Linked DNA regions of Homo sapiens. The protein of the gene in region 1 interacts with the protein of each later gene in a biochemical or structural test. Each region holds a gene or a part of one and is shown on either strand. Other genes may lie near its edges.

The links. The genes of interacting proteins can lie anywhere in the genome.
Region 2: the proteins of MUL1 (region 1) and UBE2D4 form a complex in vitro, tested with the Homo sapiens proteins (one study listed by BioGRID).
Region 3: of the proteins of MUL1 (region 1) and DNM1L, one has a biochemical effect on the other in vitro, tested with the Homo sapiens proteins (one study listed by BioGRID).

What each region holds. Positions count from the first base shown.
Region 1 is NC_000001.11:20,498,948-20,505,151, reverse strand, and holds the end of MUL1 (mitochondrial ubiquitin ligase activator of NFKB 1), read left to right. Parts: intron 1-1,842; coding exon 1,843-1,930; intron 1,931-2,962; coding exon 2,963-3,083; intron 3,084-3,732; coding exon 3,733-4,462; 3' UTR 4,463-5,704; downstream 5,705-6,204. UniProt on the Homo sapiens protein: Exhibits weak E3 ubiquitin-protein ligase activity. E3 ubiquitin ligases accept ubiquitin from an E2 ubiquitin-conjugating enzyme in the form of a thioester and then directly transfer the ubiquitin to targeted substrates.
Region 2 is NC_000007.14:43,929,435-43,936,473, reverse strand, and holds part of UBE2D4 (ubiquitin-conjugating enzyme E2 D4), read right to left. Parts: intron 1-7,039. UniProt on the Homo sapiens protein: Accepts ubiquitin from the E1 complex and catalyzes its covalent attachment to other proteins. In vitro able to promote polyubiquitination using all 7 ubiquitin Lys residues, but may prefer 'Lys-11' and 'Lys-48'-linked polyubiquitination.
Region 3 is NC_000012.12:32,731,300-32,738,338, forward strand, and holds part of DNM1L (dynamin-1-like protein), read left to right. Parts: intron 1-56; coding exon 57-212; intron 213-554; coding exon 555-644; intron 645-2,415; coding exon 2,416-2,508; intron 2,509-5,805; coding exon 5,806-5,862; intron 5,863-6,565; coding exon 6,566-6,643; intron 6,644-6,964; coding exon 6,965-6,997; intron 6,998-7,039. UniProt on the Homo sapiens protein: Functions in mitochondrial and peroxisomal division.

The DNA of each region.
Region 1 (6,204 bases):
TTTAACCCACATAAAAATCCTGTGAAATTGCATTTTCCCTGTCCTTTATGGTTTTGGAACCTGAGACTCAGATAAATGAAGTTGTCCCAAGTCACAGTGGATGCATTGGCGCTAGATTAAACTCCAGATCTTTCTGATCATATTCTCCCTCTTCCCCCTTTAAAATTCGAATTGGCCATCCTGTGGTGGATACTTTACTAGCTGTCTCACTTTGGGCAAATCACTTCACCTCTCTGAGCCTGTTTCCTTGTCTGTAATTGGTGATAATAATGTCTACCGTAAAGGGATGGTGTGGGCATTAAGTGGTTTATGCATTTAAAGTGCCTAGCATATTGCCTGGTACATAGTATATTTAAATGCTTACTTATTCATTAATTTATTAATCAAATAATGTATTAAATGCTTGCTGTGTGTCAGGCACAGTTCTCCGCACTAGGGGGATAGCAGTGAACAGGACAAACAGTGTCCAAGCCCTCCTAGAGTTTAACATTCTAGTGGAGGGAGACAGATAATGAGTAAATTGTTAGTTGTTATTGCTGTCATTTTGGTATCTTCACAGTGTAAGTGGCTAAGAAATTTTGATTGACCTTGCTCCTGTCACTTACTGTGTAGCAGTAGCTTAAACTCAGAGTGACCTTCATATACATCTTGTATCACATCACCTCTTTAGAGGTTACTGAATCTGGCATCCTTAAGAGTTGTTTTTGGGAATACCCTGAAAGCAGAGATGGTCCTTTATTCGTCCTGAATCTCTGACACCCAGCACAGTGCCTGGCACAAAGATGCTCAGGAAATGATTGTTGATTTTATTCCTTTTCTCTTATTTTTGAAACAGCAGTAACAGGATTGGTTTCCCAAGTGCAGTGGGTTGGACGCTCTGAGTTGGAAGGCAGAGGAGAACTAGGGATTGTTAGAGGAAGACAGCAGCAGAAAGAACCGTGCTCACTTAATTATGAGCATGAAAAAGGCAAAAAGTAGAACAGACTGGGTGCGGTGGCTCACACCCGTAATCCCAGCACTTTGGGAGGCCGAGGCAGGAGGATCGCTTGAGCTCAGGAGCTCAACACCAGCCTGGGCAACATTGGGAGACCCTGTCTCTGCAAAATAAAAAAATTAGACAGGTGTGGTGGTGCATGCCTATGGCCTCAGCAACTTGGGGGCCTGAGGTGGGAGGATCACTTGAGCCTGGGAGGTTGAGGCTGCAGTGAGCCATGATTGCACTACTGCACTCCAGTCTGGGTATAACAGTGAGACCCCATCTCAAAAAAAAAAAAAAATGTAGAATGGCATTTGGCACCAGTTAACAGTCTTCCTGTTGAAGCAAAGGCAACTCCCCCTGCTTTGTTTTTTTAATAACATACAATGCAGAGCATTGGTTCGTAAAGATGTGGTAATATTAATAATAACACCTACCAGTTCTCAAACCACTGCCATGTGCTAGGTGATAGGTTAGGTACTTTATACCTGAACCCTTTGGATCATAGCTCTGTGTTGTCAGGAAGAGATTGAATGATGTTCAGTCTGTGGTATGTAAATTGACTAGTACCTTTTATATTTTCACTAAAAAGTCTTAACATGAAAAGGAGTATAGGTTTTGGTTAACTGGAACAAGAATGTATGTGGCACCCCCATTCTGCAGTGATGGAAGAGGCAGAGGCATGGCTCCATTCCTGTTGATGTACACAGCTTTGAAATCTGATTCTCAGTAGTCACCTTCCTGTCCAATTTCCATATTCTCTTGACACGAAAAAAATAGAATCTTTTTCTTTTTTTTGCCTGTAAGTTTGATTGAGCATGTCAGTGTTCAATGGCCAATTAATTTAATTTTTTTTTTTTATTTAGGGAGCTAAAAAAGTTCATTTGGGTGAAGATTTAAAGAGTATTCTTTCAGAAGCTCCAGGAAAATGCGTGCCTTATGCTGTTATAGAAGGTATGTTTGCTTATTGGTCAATGGAAAACAACGTCTTTTTCCCAAAAGATTGATAAAGATCATCTTGGCTAATATGAAGAGCCTTTTGTGGTGTTGGGTCCATGGTCCAGAACATACTTTGGGGTCAGAAAGACATGGGTTATTGCTTTGTGATCGCTAAGATTACCAAACCTCCCTGAACCACTGTTGCCTGATCTCGAAAATAATACTTACCTTTATGGGGTTGTTATAAGACAAATTATGTGATCCATGCAAAGTGCTTAGGAGAGTGCTTCTAAAATGTGACTTATGGTGATCAGAATGTCATTGTTTTGATGAATTAGCAAAAGTCAACTGAAAACACTTAATTTTTAACATTTTTTAAATTAAAAAAAAAATTTTTTTTTGAGGCCAGGTGTGGTAGCTCATGCCTGTAATCCCAGCACTTTGGGAGGCTGAGATGGGCTGATCACTTGAGCTCAGGAGTTTGAGACCAGCCTGGTCGACATGATGAAACCCCGTCTCTACTAAAAATACAAAAATTAGCTGGATGTGGTGGCACATACCCGTAATCCCAGCTACTCGGGGGGCTGAGGCAGGAGAATTGCTTGAACCCGGGAGGCGGAGGTTGCAGTGAGCCAAGATTGCACCACTGTACTCCAGCCTGGGTAACAGAGTGAGACTCCGTCTCAAATAGAGTCTTGGCTCTGTCACCCAGGTAGCTGTAGTATGGTGGTGTGATCATAGCTCACTGCAGCCTCAAACTCCTGAGCTCAAGTGATTCTCCTGCCTCAGCCTCCCAAGTATCTGGGACTACAGGCACATGCCACCACACCCTGCTAACTTTTTAATTTTTTGTAAAGATGGAATCTCACTGTGTTAACCAGGCTGGTCTCAAACTCGTGGCCCCAAGTGATCCTTCTGACTTGGCTTCCCAAAGTGTTGGGATTATAGGTGTGACCTACTGTGCCAGACCAGAAAACACATTTTAAATTATCTGAAAGGAGAGGGCAGAAAACTTCTTCAGAAATAATAGAATTTGTGTCCACTTAGGAGCTGTGCGGTCTGTTAAAGAAACGCTTAACAGCCAGTTTGTGGAAAACTGCAAGGGGGTAATTCAGCGGCTGACACTTCAGGAGCACAAGATGGTGTGGAATCGAACCACCCACCTTTGGTATGTATCACTTCTCCACTGGCCAAAACCCTTGCAGTTGGTCTATTCAAATGCTGGGGTCCTGGGTGCTGTTGCCGTGACTTCAGCTTCTCCTGAGACAGGTTGAAGCCCAGTCTCTTAATGCAGGTCATATTCTTGTGTGTAGCCTGTGGGCCTCCTATGTCGGAATCACCGAGGCATCTTGTTGAAATGCAGATTTCTGAGCTCCCTTCAGTCCCTGAAGTGGATAAGTCAGTCCCTGGTGACTTATCCAACCAGAATTTCCAGGATCAGGGACCTGGAATCTGTTGTTAGGCACACTGAAGTTTGAGAACCACTGAATCAGTGATTTCAGTATTTCCTAAAATGCTTTTGTGCCATCATATGAAATATCAGTTTTCCAACTGGTCCTAGTGAGTTTTGTTTTAGATGTTTGTTTTACAGTGGAAAGGGAAATGATAGTCTGTGGCGGTTATTTGTTGCCCACTGATATCGCCCCAGGACCTACAAATGGAGCCTCCTTGTTAGGAGGCAACTGGAGATAGTGATCTTACTGTCTTCTTCCAGTTACTTCAGACCATATGCTGTCCTCCACATTTAGTTGATCTCCAGTTCTGCCTGGGTGTTTGCTGTTTGCTACCCTGTATCTTTAGTTCTCTTATTCTTCTAGGAATGATTGCTCAAAGATCATTCATCAGAGGACCAACACAGTGCCCTTTGACCTGGTGCCCCACGAGGATGGCGTGGATGTGGCTGTGCGAGTGCTGAAGCCCCTGGACTCAGTGGATCTGGGTCTAGAGACTGTGTATGAGAAGTTCCACCCCTCGATTCAGTCCTTCACCGATGTCATCGGCCACTACATCAGCGGTGAGCGGCCCAAAGGCATCCAAGAGACCGAGGAGATGCTGAAGGTGGGGGCCACCCTCACAGGGGTTGGCGAACTGGTCCTGGACAACAACTCTGTCCGCCTGCAGCCGCCCAAACAAGGCATGCAGTACTATCTAAGCAGCCAGGACTTCGACAGCCTGCTGCAGAGGCAGGAGTCGAGCGTCAGGCTCTGGAAGGTGCTGGCGCTGGTTTTTGGCTTTGCCACATGTGCCACCCTCTTCTTCATTCTCCGGAAGCAGTATCTGCAGCGGCAGGAGCGCCTGCGCCTCAAGCAGATGCAGGAGGAGTTCCAGGAGCATGAGGCCCAGCTGCTGAGCCGAGCCAAGCCTGAGGACAGGGAGAGTCTGAAGAGCGCCTGTGTAGTGTGTCTGAGCAGCTTCAAGTCCTGCGTCTTTCTGGAGTGTGGGCACGTTTGTTCCTGCACCGAGTGCTACCGCGCCTTGCCAGAGCCCAAGAAGTGCCCTATCTGCAGACAGGCGATCACCCGGGTGATACCCCTGTACAACAGCTAATAGTTTGGAAGCCGCACAGCTTGACCTGGAAGCACCCCTGCCCCCTTTTCAGGGATTTTTATCTCGAGGCCTTTGGAGGAGCAGTGGTGGGGGTAGCTGTCACCTCCAGGTATGATTGAGGGAGGAATTGGGTAGAAACTCTCCAGACCCATGCCTCCAATGGCAGGATGCTGCCTTTCCCACCTGAGAGGGGACCCTGTCCATGTGCAGCCTCATCAGAGCCTCACCCTGGGAGGATGCCGTGGCGTCTCCTCCCAGGAGCCAGATCAGTGCGAGTGTGACTGAAAATGCCTCATCACTTAAGCACCAAAGCCAGTGATCAGCAGCTCTTCTGTTCCTGTGTCTTCTGTTTTTTTCTGGTGAATCGTTGCTTGCTGTGGACTTGGTGGAGGACTCAGAGGGGAGGAAAGGCTGGGCCCCGAGTACAACGGATGCCTTGGGTGCTGCCTCCGAAGAGACTCTGCCGCAGCTTTTCTTCTTTTTCCTCATGCCCCGGGAAACAGTCTTTCTTCAGAATTGTCAGGCTGGGCAGGTCAACTTGTGTTCCTTTCCCCTCACCTGCTTGCCTCCTTAACGCCTGCACGTGTGTGTAGAGGACAAAAGAAAGTGAAGTCAGCACATCCGCTTCTGCCCAGATGGTCGGGGCCCCGGGCAACAGATTGAAGAGAGATCATGTGAAGGGCAGTTGGTCAGGCAGGCCTCCTGGTTTCGCCACTGGCCCTGATTTGAACTCCTGCCACTTGGGAGAGCTCGGGGTGGTCCCTGGTTTTCCCTCCTGGAGAATGAGGCGCAGAGGCCTCGCCTCCTGAAGGACGCAGTGTGGATGCCACTGGCCTAGTGTCCTGGCCTCACAGCTTCCTTGCAAGGCTGTCACAAGGAAAAGCAGCCGGCTGGCACCCTGAGCATATGCCCTCTTGGGGCTCCCTCATCCAGCCCGTCGCAGCTTTGACATCTTGGTGTACTCATGTCGCTTCTCCTTGTGTTACCCCCTCCCAGTATTACCATTTGCCCCTCACCTGCCCTTGGTGAGCCTTTTAGTGCAAGACAGATGGGGCTGTTTTCCCCCACCTCTGAGTAGTTGGAGGTCACATACACAGCTCTTTTTTTATTGCCCTTTTCTGCCTCTGAATGTTCATCTCTCGTCCTCCTTTGTGCAGGCGAGGAAGGGGTGCCCTCAGGGGCCGACACTAGTATGATGCAGTGTCCAGTGTGAACAGCAGAAATTAAACATGTTGCAACCAAGTGCTAGCCTGTTGCTTTGTTAACAGGAGTTAAATGGCTAAGCCTAAGTGTCCCCAGGATGGGATTGAATCCCTGCCACAATGGAGTGAAAGGTGGGGGAGTTTGAGGCCTCTGTGTTCTTTTCCTCGGCTATAGTGGTTTGGGGCTCCCCCAGATGGGGTGATGCAGAGGCCGGCCGGGATGCCTGCCCCCTGGGGAGGAATCTGGACAGCCCACCCGTGGGTCATATCTGGCCTTGCTGACCATCTTTGAAGTCTGTCCCGACAGCCTACAAATCAGGGCAGTGAGATTTCACCTGCTGGGAGAATGGGATGGGGATGGGGTGCTGGGGGACAGCAGAGAGGAAATGAGCATTTAGCAATACTGTGTATGAGGTACTGTGCCGTGTGCTGTTTCAAACTCATTTCAGAGTGAGTTCATCCTCACAAAACCCCTGCAGGCCGAGTCCCGGTGTCTGTGCTGTACAGGTGAGGAAGTAGGCCCAGAGGGTACATTCACTG
Region 2 (7,039 bases), on another chromosome or scaffold:
ATTAAGTAGATTAAGTTTATATAGTAATTACTATTACAAGTAACAATGATAAAAGTGAGAAGTTCCGAAAAAGAGAAAGTAAGTTAAAGTATTGAATAGTAGTAGAGAAGAGTTAAGCAAACCATGGTACACACTCAGTTATTCCTTTACGGTGTTTCGTCAACTCCAAGACTCCATCCTTTATAAGACACAATTTTACTTTACATACAATTAGGAAAAAAAAAACATGCTGGCAAATAAACTAACACAAATGCTTTCTTTGCACATAAACTTTAATTGTATTTAAAAATTACTTTTATCAGGCTGTGTACAGTGGTTCATGCCGGTAATCCCAGCACTTTGGGAGGCCGAGGTAGGCAGATCGCCTGATGTCAGGAGTTCGAGACCAGTTTGGCCAACATGGTGAAACCCTGTCTCTACTACAAATACAAAACTTAGCTGGGCTTGGTGGCATGTGCCTATAACCAGCTACTCAGGAGGCTGAGGCACAAGAATCGCTTTAGAGGGTGATGCCATGGGCAGGGCAGAGCATCTGGGGTCTTTTGGGAGCCTCCAATCCCCAACAGTTTCGCAGAACACTGATATCTATGGACTCTAAAATGGGCTTCATTTAAAGAAACCCACAGACCATTAATGGACAAAAACATGAATCTATATGTATTGTGACATTCCAGTCCTGGCACTGTGGGAGAGCATCAAGTACCACGTTTTTGAAGACCATGGCCTATCATCATTATGCGTTCAAGATCTGAGTTTGAATAACCTCATCAAGACTTAGATCTTCTTCAAAAGCTTCAAGTCTCATCTGCATTAAAGCTCTCCATTGAACCCTCTCACAAAAGTGCAAACTTAAAGGGACTAAAATCCGTTAACACATTCCATTTTATATCCCTTCTTCTGACTTCTCTTCAATTTCCTTGGCCTCTGGGGCCCTTTATATTGCTTATGTTCCTTTAGGGCCAAAGTGACAGTGCTTTCCAAAAAAAAAAATATGTATTCTGTGGCCATAAGTTTACAGAGAAGCATAAATTTAGCATGATGAATTTAGAATTAGGTCTTTTATGGTATTCTGTAAAAAGTTGAATTAATAATAAGAAAATGAGGATGAAGCAGTAAAAATATTTTGGGTTAGAATATACTCTCCAAAGCTATGTGGTTTAGAGAAAAGGGCCCCCAACCTAAAAGTTAATAGTTCTTATTCTGTCTCTGCCTTTTACTAGGTAACTGAGAAAGTCACTTAACCTCTCTGAACCTTAACTTCATTATCTATAAAGCGTAACTGATATTTTCCCCTCCCTACCTCACAGGGTTGTTGTGAGGAACAAGTGAAACAATGTACATAAAAAGACATATAAAATGTATAATACAGACAAAGGGTCCTGTTACGTAGTTGGAAGTCATTCCCTCAGATCTTGGGCCTAGGAAGATAGGTGATTTAAGCTCACTGAAAGCATGTACCATGTCCAGGCTGAATACATGGTAACAAGGCTATGTTACATTTTTTTTTTCCCTGAGTTGAGTACCTAAAATACCACATGGGCTAATTCTAAGAAGGAGCACCACTATATATTTCCCTAAAATTATAGCTTAGCATTGTTAATGCTCTAGAGCAGTTATGCATTGTAACATATTAGTGATTTGTGAAAGATTTTTACTAAAACGTGACCAGCATTTTTCTTTAAATGAAAGAATGTAGAATATTTCACAATGCATCCCATGTGATGAGAAAAAATATTTTTTTTAGTTATATGTACATATGCATGTGTGTGAATGTGTGTGTGTACTTGGTCATTAAATAAAATGTACTTTTTCTTCTTGTGGGAAAAAAAAAAAAGAATTGCTTTAGCCCGGGAGGTGGAGGTTGCAGTGAGCCAAGACTGCGCCTGTGTGACAGAGTGAGATTCTGTTTCAAAAAATTAAAAAATTAAAATTACTTTTATCAAAAGAATTATTTTAGGCTTAAACATAGCTTTGTGTGTTTCTTGTTAAGTATCATTCATGAATACAAAAAAAAAAAAAAGGAAAAACAAGTGAAATAAATAAACTGGTTTGTTCAGGTATTCCTAAAGTTTCTTCCCATTCAGAGCCCAACACTGAGTCATTGATGTCTACACAATATCATCCTCTGTGTCTTCCAAAACAATGGTAATGTGGCAATTCTTAGAGTCCTCTACTACTCTTCCTGGAGTTTTCTTTCAAGCCATGAATACTTATTCTGCAAAGGCCCATGATACACAATCTATTTGCACGTATTCCAGAAAAAAAAAAATGACCCAGTCTCACCAACTTGAGGGTAGGTGGTACCTTCCTTTCTGTGGCTATGAAGAATTTGGTTGCTTGACATGGAATTAGGAAATTCCAGTCCTTCCTCCAACAACAAATATTTGCTCCCTTATTATGAAATTTACTCGTCGTTGTCCTGTTTCTGTGCCTGTGTTCACAAAAGCTTTTCTTTTCAGTGCTAAATCACACTATCTTTTTGAAAATATTTTTAAAACAATTAAACTCAACAAATATAGTACCAGCAATGCACTTACCTCATAATGAACTGCCATGATGGTTTACTCATACAGATAGTGACATCTAAGTGAAGGTAACCTGGCTGACAGCTATTGTAAGAAGCATCCCAATTTCAGAGACGTGAACATTTGAAAAAATATTCATCTTGAAGTAGATGAATATGGTATTATCTTATTTCCAAGTTCTCTTTATTTTTTATTTTTATTTTTAGAGACAGGGTCTCACTGTGTTGCCCAGACTGGAGTACACTGGCACCATCTCGGCTCACTGCAACCTCTGCCTACTGGGTTCAAGCAATTCTGGTGTCTCACCCTCCAGAGTAGCTGGGACTGATTACAGGAACGCACCACCATGCCCAGCTAATTTTTGTATTTGTAGTAGAGATGAGTTTCACCATGTTGGCCAGGCTGGTCTCAAACTCCTGACCTCAAGCGATCCTCCTGCCTCAGCCTCCCAAAGTGCTGGGATTACAGGCCTGAGCCACCACGCCCAGCCCCAAGTTTCTTTAAAGAACAATTACTACCTTTATAATCAGAAGTTAACTAAACTTTTTTTTGAGAAACTAAACCAAGTATTATGCAGCCACTGAAAATTAGTTTTTAAAGACTACAGAATAACAGGAGAAAATGTCATGATACAACATTAGAGGAAAAGGGCAAGAAAAAAGCAGAGTATAAAATTTGATGCACTACATGACAACAATCTGAAACACATACACATCAAAGGCACTGAAAAGAAATCCACAAAAATGTTAACTACAATTACATGAATAGGTAGAATATATATATATATACACCCACACATATATATGTACGTATATGTATATACACACATATAAGTATATATGTTATATATATACACACATACATATGTGTATATATATGTGTGTATATATGTTATATATATACACACATACATATGTGTATATATATGTGTGTGTATATATATATATATATATATATATATATACTTTAACATTTGTTGCCCCCAGGAGGGGAACTGGATGGCACACATTCCAGCAAGAAAAAGTGACCCCACTTTAGATGACTAGAGATGAGTTTTTTAAAAACTGAATTTTGGGGGCATTTTCCAAATTTTCTTTAATTTTCTTTTTTTCTATTATTATTTTTTTATTATGTATTTTATTTTTATTATTTTTTTGAGACAGGATTTCGCTCTGTCACCCAGGTTGGAGTGCCGTGGCGCCATCTTGGTTCACTGCAACCTCCATCTCCTGGGTTCAAGCGATTCTTATGCCTCAGCCTCCCGAGTAGCTGAGATTACAGGCACCTACTAATATGCCCGGCTAATGTTTGTATATTTAGGAGAGACAGGGTTTTGCCATGTTGGCCAGGCTTGTCTCAAACTCCTGGCCTCAAGTGATCCATCCACCTCGGCCTCCCAAAGTGCTGAGATTACAGGCGTGAGCCACCCTGCTTAGCCAGGTATTTTCCAAATTTTCTTTAAAGTACATGTATTGCAAAATATATGTGTTAAATATGTATTGATATAGTTTGGATCTGTGTTCCCACACAAAACTCTTGTCAAATTGTAATCTCCAACGTTGAGGGTGGGGCCTGGTGGGAAGTGATTGGTTTAGTACAATCCACTTGGTATTATCCTCTTCTCACAAGATCTGGTTGTTTCAAAGTATGTCATGGGCCAGGCACAGTGGCTCACTTTGTGCCTGTAATCCCAGCACTTTGGGAGGCCAAGGCGGGTGGATCACGAGGTCAGGAGATCGAGACCATCCTGGCTAACATGGTGAAACCCCGTCTCTCCTAAAAATACAAAAAATTAGCTGGGTGTGGTGGCAGGCGCCTGTAGTCCCAGCTACTCAGGGAGGTTGAGGCTGGAGAATGGTGTGAACCTGGGAGGCAGAGCTTGCAGTGAGCCGAGATCGTGCCACTGCACTCCAGCCTGGGCGACAGAGCAAGACTCTGTCTCAAAAAAAAAAGTGTGTCATGGCCAGGCACAGTGGCTCATGCCTGTAATCCCAGCACTTTGGGAGGCCCAAGTGGGTGGATCGCTTGAGCTCAGGAGTTCAAGACCAGCCTGGCAACATGGCAAAACCCCGTCTCTACTAAAAATACAAAAAAAAGTAGCCAGGCATGGTGGCACACACTACTCCAGAGGCTGACACAGGAGAATCAGTTGAACCAGAGAGACGGAGGCTGCAGTGATCAGAAATTGCACCACTGCACTCCAGCCTGGGTGACAGAGACCCTGTCTCAAAAATAAATAAATAAATAAATAAAAGTGTGGAGCACCTCCCCTTGTTCTCTCTCTTGCTCCTGTTCTGGCCATGTGACATGCCTGCTCTGCCACCCCCCCCGCCCCCCCACCCCGGTTTGCCTTCCACAGTGAGTGTGAGTTTCCCCTCCTCTGAAGCAGAGCAGACACTAGTGCCATACTTCCTGTACAGCCTGCGGAACTGTGAGCCAATTAAAACTCTTCTTCCTAAATTACCTCATCTCAGGTTTTCTGTTTTGTTTGTTTGTTTGTTTTTTAAGATACGGTCTTACTCTGTCACCCAGGTTGGAGTGCAGTGGCACGATATCGGCTCACTGCAACCTCCACCTCTGTCTGGCTCAAGCGATCCTTCCACCTCAGCCACCTGAGTAGCTGGGACCATAGGCACATGCCAAGAACCATGCCTGTCTAATTTTTTCTATTTTTGGTAGAGCTGGGGTTTTGCCATGTTGCCCAGGCTGGTCTTGAACTCCTGAGCTCAGGCCATCCACCTGCCTTAGCCTCCCAAAGTGCTAGGATTACAGGCATGGGCCACCTCATCCAGCCTTCAGGTATTTCTTTTTTTCTTTTTTTTTTTTTTGAGACAGAGTCTCACTCTATCACCCAGGCTGGAGTGTAGTGGCATGATCGCTCACTGAAACCTCTGCCTCCCGGGTTCAAGCAAGTCTCCTGCCTCAGCCTTCCAAGTAGCCAGGATTACAGGCACATGCCACCATACCCAGCTAATTTTTGTATTTTTAGTGGATATGGGGTTTCACCATGTTGACCAGGACCTAACCTCAGATGATCTGCCCGCCTCAGCCTCCCAAAATGCTGGGATTACAGACATGAGCCACTGTGCCTGGCCAGGTATTTCCTAACAGCAATGCAAGAATGGACTAATACACGTATCAAAGAGAAAAAAAACCATTAAAAAATTGAAATGCTGCCACATATAACCCTGTCCTGGTTGAGAACAGTGGCTCACACCTGTAATCCCAGCACTTTAGGAGGCTGAGGTGGGAGGATTACATGAGCCTAGGAGTTTGAGACCAGCCTGGGCAACATGGTGAAATCCACTCTCTACAAAAAATTTTAAATTAGCCAGATGTGGTGGCAGGCACCTGTAATCCCAGCTACTGGGAAAGCTAAGTGGGAGGACTGCTTGAGCCCAGGAGGTCAAGGCTGCAGTGAGCTATGATTGAGCCACTGCACTACAGCCTAGGTAACAGAGCAAGACCCTGTCTCAAAAAACTAACTAACTAACTAACTAACTAAAAAGTGCATCTAAAAATATTCAATTTGAAACATTCATTTGAAAACATTTTTTTAAAGGGTTGAAGTTGGTTAGAAAGGGCTGTGGATTGGAAACTAAGGGGGCAGCTAGTAGACACCACACACCTGGCTCAGGCTTGCATACTGCTGGCTACCTGCTCAGCACCCATCCGCCTTCCTCCTTTCTGAAGGACTGCTGTTCAGTTCTGGTCAACTCACTGTCAGCTCCAGGTCTAAGAGTAACCAGACTCCTTGCCACTCATTGGTTTCGGAATGAGCATGAGACATAATTCATAACAAGGCAAAGGGAAAAAAAGATCTGCTGGGCTTTCTGAGAATATTCTTATCAGTTCTTCTGGAAGCAGTTGTCTCTATTACTCCCAGATGTCCAGCAGGCTGTGTGTTCCAGAGCCATTCAGCCCAGAGTGACACAGGAACAGACCAGGAGAGGGGGACTGAGTTGCTCCCAAAGTCCTGCCACAGGACCTCCAATTCCATGCACAAGGGCAGCTCAGCCTCTGTCACTTGCAGCCAAGACATCCTAACTAGTGGTGGCCCAATGGTGCCATCTCACCACGGCAGGCTTGACACACTTTTAAAGTTGTATTTCCTACAATTCTGTTGTTTTTCCCCAGGAATTGCTACAGAATTTGCAGGGCCTTGTGAATGTGAAAATGTAGGGTCTCAAGTTCGATAATTATTAAGAATTTCCTGATAGTGACAGCAGAGCATAAAACCAAAGGCAGAGCCCATCCAAGCCTGGGGCCCTGTGAGAGTGAATGCGTCACACACACATGAAGCCAGCCCTGACCTTGATTCTTGTTTTGCTTTTGTTTTAAGACAGGGTCTCACTCTGGTTGCCCAGGCTGGAGTGCAGTGGTGAGGCTCACTGCAGCCTTGACCTCCTGGGCTCAGGTGATTCTCCCACCTTAGCCTCCTAAGTAGCTGGGATTACAGGTGTGTGTCACCACGCTTGGCTAATTTTTTTTTTAATTTTTATTTACTTTTTTTT
Region 3 (7,039 bases), on another chromosome or scaffold:
CTTGGGAAGAACTGAAATTACATATATAATAAGAGTTCTAAGTTTTATTTTCTCAGGGTCCTCGTCCTGCTTTATTTGTGCCTGAGGTTTCATTTGAGTTACTGGTGAAGCGGCAAATCAAACGTCTAGAAGAGCCCAGCCTCCGCTGTGTGGAACTGGTTCATGAGGAAATGCAAAGGATCATTCAGCACTGTAGCAATTACAGTACACAGGTAACGGAGAGAAATGTAACAGGTTTCACATGAACTAGAAAAGGACATGAAGTGGTGGTTTCACTGGGTGGAAGGAAATGTATAAGATGGGATACAAGGTAAAATCTGTAGTTCCCTTACCTGAAAGTGATTTGAAATAGGATTCTTAAATGTAGTCTCCAAATTGAATTCAGTATTTCTGTGATCATTAAGTAAAAGAAAATGACTGTTAGCCTGGCATGGTGGCTTCTACATGTAGTCTCAGCTACTTGGGAGGCTAAGGTGGGAGGATGGCTTAGTGAGACTATGACTTAAAAAAAAAACAAAAAACAAACACGTTTTTCTTTCATCTACCATTTGTAGGAATTGTTACGATTTCCTAAACTTCATGATGCCATAGTTGAAGTGGTGACTTGTCTTCTTCGTAAAAGGTTGCCTGTTACAAATGAAATGGTGAGCTACTATAGCATAGATCATTGTAATTACTATTAGTAAAAGTTTAAATTTTTGCTTGGCTGCTTTTTAATAAGCATTATATGGTTACTTTAGAGTGTAGGCATAATGTTTTCCAGTGTATTGGGAGGAAAAACAAGTTGAGTTTCAGTCTCATTTTAAAGGAAAATTTTTAATAATTCTGGTATAAAGTGCATTTTTTCTTCATATTTTAATCATTGTTAGCCTGCAGGCATGGGTTTTCTTGAAAATAGATTTATGATTGAGGGGTGTGAATAGCTTTGCTGTATTATTTAGTACCACTGATCTTAAGAGAAAATTAGTTCCATCTTTAGCCTCAGTAAACTGAGCATTTATAGCACACTGTTACTTTGAGGTACATCGGAGTAATCTGGCCACTTCTGCAGTTTGCTTGTTATGACCTAATAACTATAATATCGTAGTTGCTTGCTACTATTCTGTGGGTTGCTGCTATCCACACAAATAAAAATGCTGAAATTGGCAGAAATATGGGATAAGCATTTAAAATTGCCCTCATGCCTCTAATTGTTGGCTGGGTTTTTTGTTTTTTGTTTTCTTTCTGATCACTAAAAGTGCATTTGGGTCCTTGGCTCAGGATGGTGAACCCCGTGGAGGTTTACTAAGAGTACAAAACCATCCTTGGAATGTAAGTGCTGCTGCTTGGTTGTTTCTTTAGCAAGGATAGCCCTCAGATTCTGATGTCTAAGACTGAATTTAGCCCAGAATCATTGGACCTTCATTTTAATAGACCCTTTTTACCCAGTTCTGGACTGATAAGTGCTGTTCTGATACCTGAGATTTGTTAGGACAGCACATAATAAAGGGCTCAAGTTTATTCTCTCTGTAAGACTCAGTGGTGTGGTGGCTCACACCTGTAATCCCAACACTTTGGGAAGTCGAGGCGGGTGGATCACTTGAGGTCGGAAGTTTGAGACCAGCCTGACCAACATGGAGAAACCCCCTCTCTACTAAAAATACAAAATTAGCCGGGCGTGGTGGTGCATGCCTGTAATCCCAGCTACTGGGGAGGCTGAGGCAGGCAGGAGAATCACTTGAACCTGGGAGGTGGAGGCTGCGGTGAGCCGAGATCGCGCCATTGCACTCCAGCCTGGGCAATGAGAGCGAAACTCCGTCTCAAACAAACAAACAAACAAAAAGACTTAGCAATTCTGTAGAGGGCTGGATAAATTAATTTTAACTTTTCTTTTTTATTTTCCTCTTAGGATTTTGAACTACATATAATATTTTAACTAGGTGCTTTATAGTTAAGGCTAATCAGTCACTACCTCAGGTCCTTAGATGTATCCTTTACCCAAATAAGTTAACATCTTTAACTTATGCCTTGTTACGAACTTATTTTCTTATTGTTGAAAATGAACTAAAAAAGTGACAGGGAATAGTGGATGATCTGAAGTTTTAATAGCAAAGTTGCATAAAGTGTTGGAATTTAGATTTGCATTAGGTAGATGACTATTTTTCCCTAAGAGTAAAATACTTGTAGTTACTTTAATGTTATTTTTCCCTCTTAGAAATGCAGTTTTAGATGCTGAAATGTAAATAATTTTAAAGCTAGAGTAAATTATTGTTTGGCATAAGATTTATCAGTTGGAATATAATTATCAAGTAATTTAGGCATAAGTTTCCTGTACTTTTTCGGTATTGTCTGTTTCATAAGTTTTATATATAAATTTCTCAAAGTAAAATATGGTTGATGTATTTTTGTATATCGCCTAACTTACTTTTTTTCTAGGTCCATAACTTAGTGGCAATTGAACTGGCTTATATCAACACAAAACATCCAGACTTTGCTGATGCTTGTGGGCTAATGAACAATAATATAGAGGTAAATATAATTCTTAAATGCTTTTTCACAGGTAGAAAAATCTGTTGTAACTCAGTTATATCAAACTTATTTAGCATGGAGTAACTATAAAATAGACATGTGCCACATTAGTGCCTGCTGCATGTCAGGAAATATGCTGAGGGGATTACATTGTTTTCTTAATTCTCAAAACCACCTGCAGGCATTATTACTTTCTGCTTATGAAATTGAAATTCAGAAAGAATCTGAAAATTCATTGATTTGGTGTGACTGGCTCTATTTTGGTAACTTATAGTTTATACAGGGGAAGTGTGTACAACAAAGTATTTAAAATTCTTTTCATTTGGCTTTGAAAGCTGTGAAGGAAACACTCAAGAATTAACCAACTTAGCATAAATTTGGAAAAGCAGAGTGCTTTTTTCACCACTACTGGGGTGGCTGCATTTCATGGATCTTTTCTTTCCTTTTGATTTTAATGTAACAAATTGAATAAGATCTCAGATGGAGCCAAGGCTGGTGGACAGAGCAATTTATCCAGAAGCCATTTTTTTTCTCTGCCGCTTTTCTCCAAAAATAGTACATTTTTCTGCTACTCCCTAATTCAGTAAGACCTGAGTCCCCTGCTATACCAAATTTCCTCTTCTGCATATCCATGGTGAGAAAATTGTAAACATGCAATTCAGAAGCTGGAAGGGATCCTGTGTTATTGACTTCAACTCTGGTTAAAACAGATGGGGTGGCCAGACGTGGTGGCTCATGCCTGTAATCCCAGCAATTTGGGAGGTCAAGGCAGGTGGATCACCTGACATCAGGAGTTTGAGACCAGCCTGGCCAACATGGTGAAACCCCGTCTCTACTAAAAATACAAAAAATTAGCCGGGCTTGGTGGCAGGTGCCTGTAATCTGAGCTACTAGGGAGGCTGAGGCAGGAGAATCAACTTGAACCCAGGAGGTGGAGGTTGCAGTGAGCTGAGATCGCGCCATTGCACTCCAGCCTGGGCAACAAGGGCGAAACTCCATCTTAAAAAAAAACTGGGGAGCTTGAGGCTTACAGATAGCAGTTATTCCTTTGGTGCTTATTTTGCAGGGCACTATTATAGGAAGCAAGCACCTTCTTAACACAGGTATAGGGAACTAATTTTTGGTTACATAGCTGGGGGTGATTCCTGTTATCAGAAAAAATTCCAAAATGCATACATGAGTAGGCACTTCAAAACACTCAGAAAGTAGGCCAGATCACAGTTATGTTAAAAATTAGCATGTAGACACTTAAAGGATTTAGTTTTTTTTACATTGAAACTAACATCATGAAAAACTTGTGTTTGCGGTAGTTCTGTTACACTGACAAGGTCATATGTGATATGATTTCAGATTAGTATTTTTCTACAAATGAATAGGTTTCTGGTTTTAATGACTGTGCCAGAGAACTTTATGTGGATATTTTCATTTAATCTTTACCATACCCTGAGGGCAGATCATGTCATTAACAGATTAGGACACTAGGGCTTCAAAATAGTTGGTAAGCTGTCCAGTTAGCAAAGCAGGTACTCCACATCTGCTGGGGTCCAGGAGCAGCTCAGATCATAACTGGTTAGTAACAGACTAGGGTGAGAATTCTAGATACCGTGGCCTTTTGCTTTGTATCCCTGTTCAAAATGTACATTTTATCATGCTAATTTTTTATTTTGAAGATTGTTAATATCTATACTTTTATTATCTGTTATTTTTTATTACTGAATACCCGCCCATGAAAAAATAAAATTGGGTCAAATTTCTGTCAAAAAAAATTATTACACATGAAACATCACTGTGGGCTGTGTGCGGTGGCTCATGCCTGTAATCCCAGCACTTTGGTAGGCCGAGGCAGGCTGATCACCTGAGGTCAGGAGTTCAAGTCTAGCCTGGCCAACGTGGCAAAACTGTCTCTACTAAAAATAGAAAAATTAGCCGGGGGTGGTGGATGCCTGTAATCCCAGCTAGTAGGGAGGCTGCAGCAGGGAGAATCCATTGAATCCAGGAGGCGGAGGTTGCAGTGAGCCAAGATCACACCACTGCACTCCAGCCTGGGCGACAGAGCGAGACTCCATTTCAACAAAAAACAAAAACAAAATCATTGTGAGGCTTTAACTTATATTTTTTTGCAAGTTGGACTGTGTTCATGAAATACTTCCTACTTAGGAGCAATTGTGACTTTAACCTAAATAGTTTCTACTTTATCTGATGCTGCCTGTGAGAGATCCATCATTAATTAACATCTACAGATTTCTATATCTTCATAATCTTTTTTTTTTTTTTTTTTTTTTAAGACAGAGTCTCACTCTGTCGCCCAGGCTGGAGTGCAGTGGCATGAGCTCTGCTCACTGCAACCTCTGCCTCCTGGGTTCAAGCAGTTCTCCTGCCGCAGCCTCCTGAGTAGCTGGGATTACAGGTGTGCGGCACCATGCCTGGCTAATTTTTATATTTTTAGTAGAGACAGGGTTTCACCATTTTGGCCAGGCTGGTCTTGAACTGCCCTCAAGTGATCTGCCCACCTTGGCCTCCCAAAGTGCTGGGATTACAAGCATGAGGCACTGTGCCCGGCCAATATTTTCATAATCTTTTACCTATCTTGGTGCTTGGATATAGCAGATGCTCGGGACATTCTAATTTGAATTTGTCAGTTTCTTTAGCTTTGTACAAGTTACTTTGATAATATTAGCAAATTAGAACAGTAGGCAATTGATCAGTGTGTTAAATTAGCCAGGTTACAGAAAGGACTAGCAGTTGTCAACACTATTTCCTGGAGGAAGAAATGGAACATTTTTATAGGATAACCTCAACCACAGATACTTCTTCAAGATACGGTTTTATGAGGGGAGTTGTTTGAGTTTAACACAAAGGTGTTCAGGTTAGAGTGACTTTTAAAGGCTTTGCGGAGTTTTCTGTGATCTCTGGACTTCAAATTCCACATGGTTATGTTGAAGGCTTACCACGTTCCACATTTATGTGAGGACAGTTTACATCACTGTTTCTTAGTGGGAAAGGGGGAGAAGATGGCAGTCTGTTGCCCCTCATTTGAGAATCCCCAGTACAGGGAGCCACTGTTACTGACAGTGTATTGTATCCTTCAGGTGTGTGGGCAGAAAAAAAAAAGATTAAGAAGCTTTGGGTTAAATGATTTCTTATTTATTTTAAAATATGATAATTATGGCATGAGTCCCAACAGTGAGAGGATGTATCTGTAAGTTACTCCACACTTTTCAATTAACATGAACATTTTTTAGTAGGCATATATCTCAATACTTGGATAATCACTTTTGTTTTGCTTGTGTTTCTTAGGAACAAAGGAGAAACAGGCTAGCCAGAGAATTACCTTCAGCTGTATCACGAGACAAGGTAAAAAAATGTTTTTAATGCATATTCCCAATACCTAAAGATAGATTGATGAGCTCAGAATATTACTCAGTCCTAGGAGTAATTTTTTCTTCTTTTCCTCCCTTTAACACTCCATTGGAACTAACTGAGTAAAGGCATACAAGTTTAAAATGGGTTTTGAGTGATTTAAAGATAATAGTATTTTGAATTCACTGACATAAATGCTTAAAAGTAGATTTAAGCATTTATTTAAGCATTTAAGCATCAAGCTTTTTAAAAAAATTCAGTCAGTGACTTTATCAACTTTGCACATAGCTGAAATGACTCAAGATTTTATTATAATAAGAGGGTTTCTTGGAAAAAACAGTATGCACAGAACAGAGGTTTTAATTACTAGTAATAATTAAAATAGTTGTAATACTAAAGTGTGTATAAAAATCTTTTACCTTGAATTCTTTGCCAGAAAAGAATCTTATTAAATACCAAAAATAAAAATGAAGCTTTTGGATTTGGATTTTTCTTATGTATTCATCTGAAGGAAACTTTTAACAAAGGTGACAATGGTGAAGGAAATAAGGCAGAATAAACAATCTCCCATGATTATTTTCATCTTTCATGTTATTTTACGATTTCATTACAGAAGGGAAAAATTCATTTATAGAATGTTCCTGAATGCATTTTTGCATCCTTGATTTTTTTTCCCCCCTGGATTTTTTGCCTTTAGTCTTCTAAAGTTCCAAGTGCTTTGGCACCTGCCTCCCAGGAGCCCTCCCCCGCTGCTTCTGCTGAGGCTGATGGCAAGGTCTGTTCTGATTCTTAATCTAAGCCTGCATGCCTTGTTCTCTGGTACAACATAATCTTCTGGAAACAATACACTGAATAGAAGAATATTAATATGGGATACTGTGCTAAGGTCAGATCACTTTAGTCTAATATATATTTTAAAATTATATAACAATGCAATGCATAGTTTATATTGTTGACATGCTTTTGCTTGCAATATAGAAGATGCACACAGAAAAAGTAATTTAAAGAGGAAATTATCCTGCACTTTTTGAATTTCAACCCATTGGTATTTAAATTTTGCTTGTTAAATTGCATGTTTTAACATATCTTTTAACAGTTAATTCAGGACAGCAGAAGAGAAACTAAAAATGTGAGTCTCTTGCTTCAGAATGGAAATGTTGGTACCTTTGGT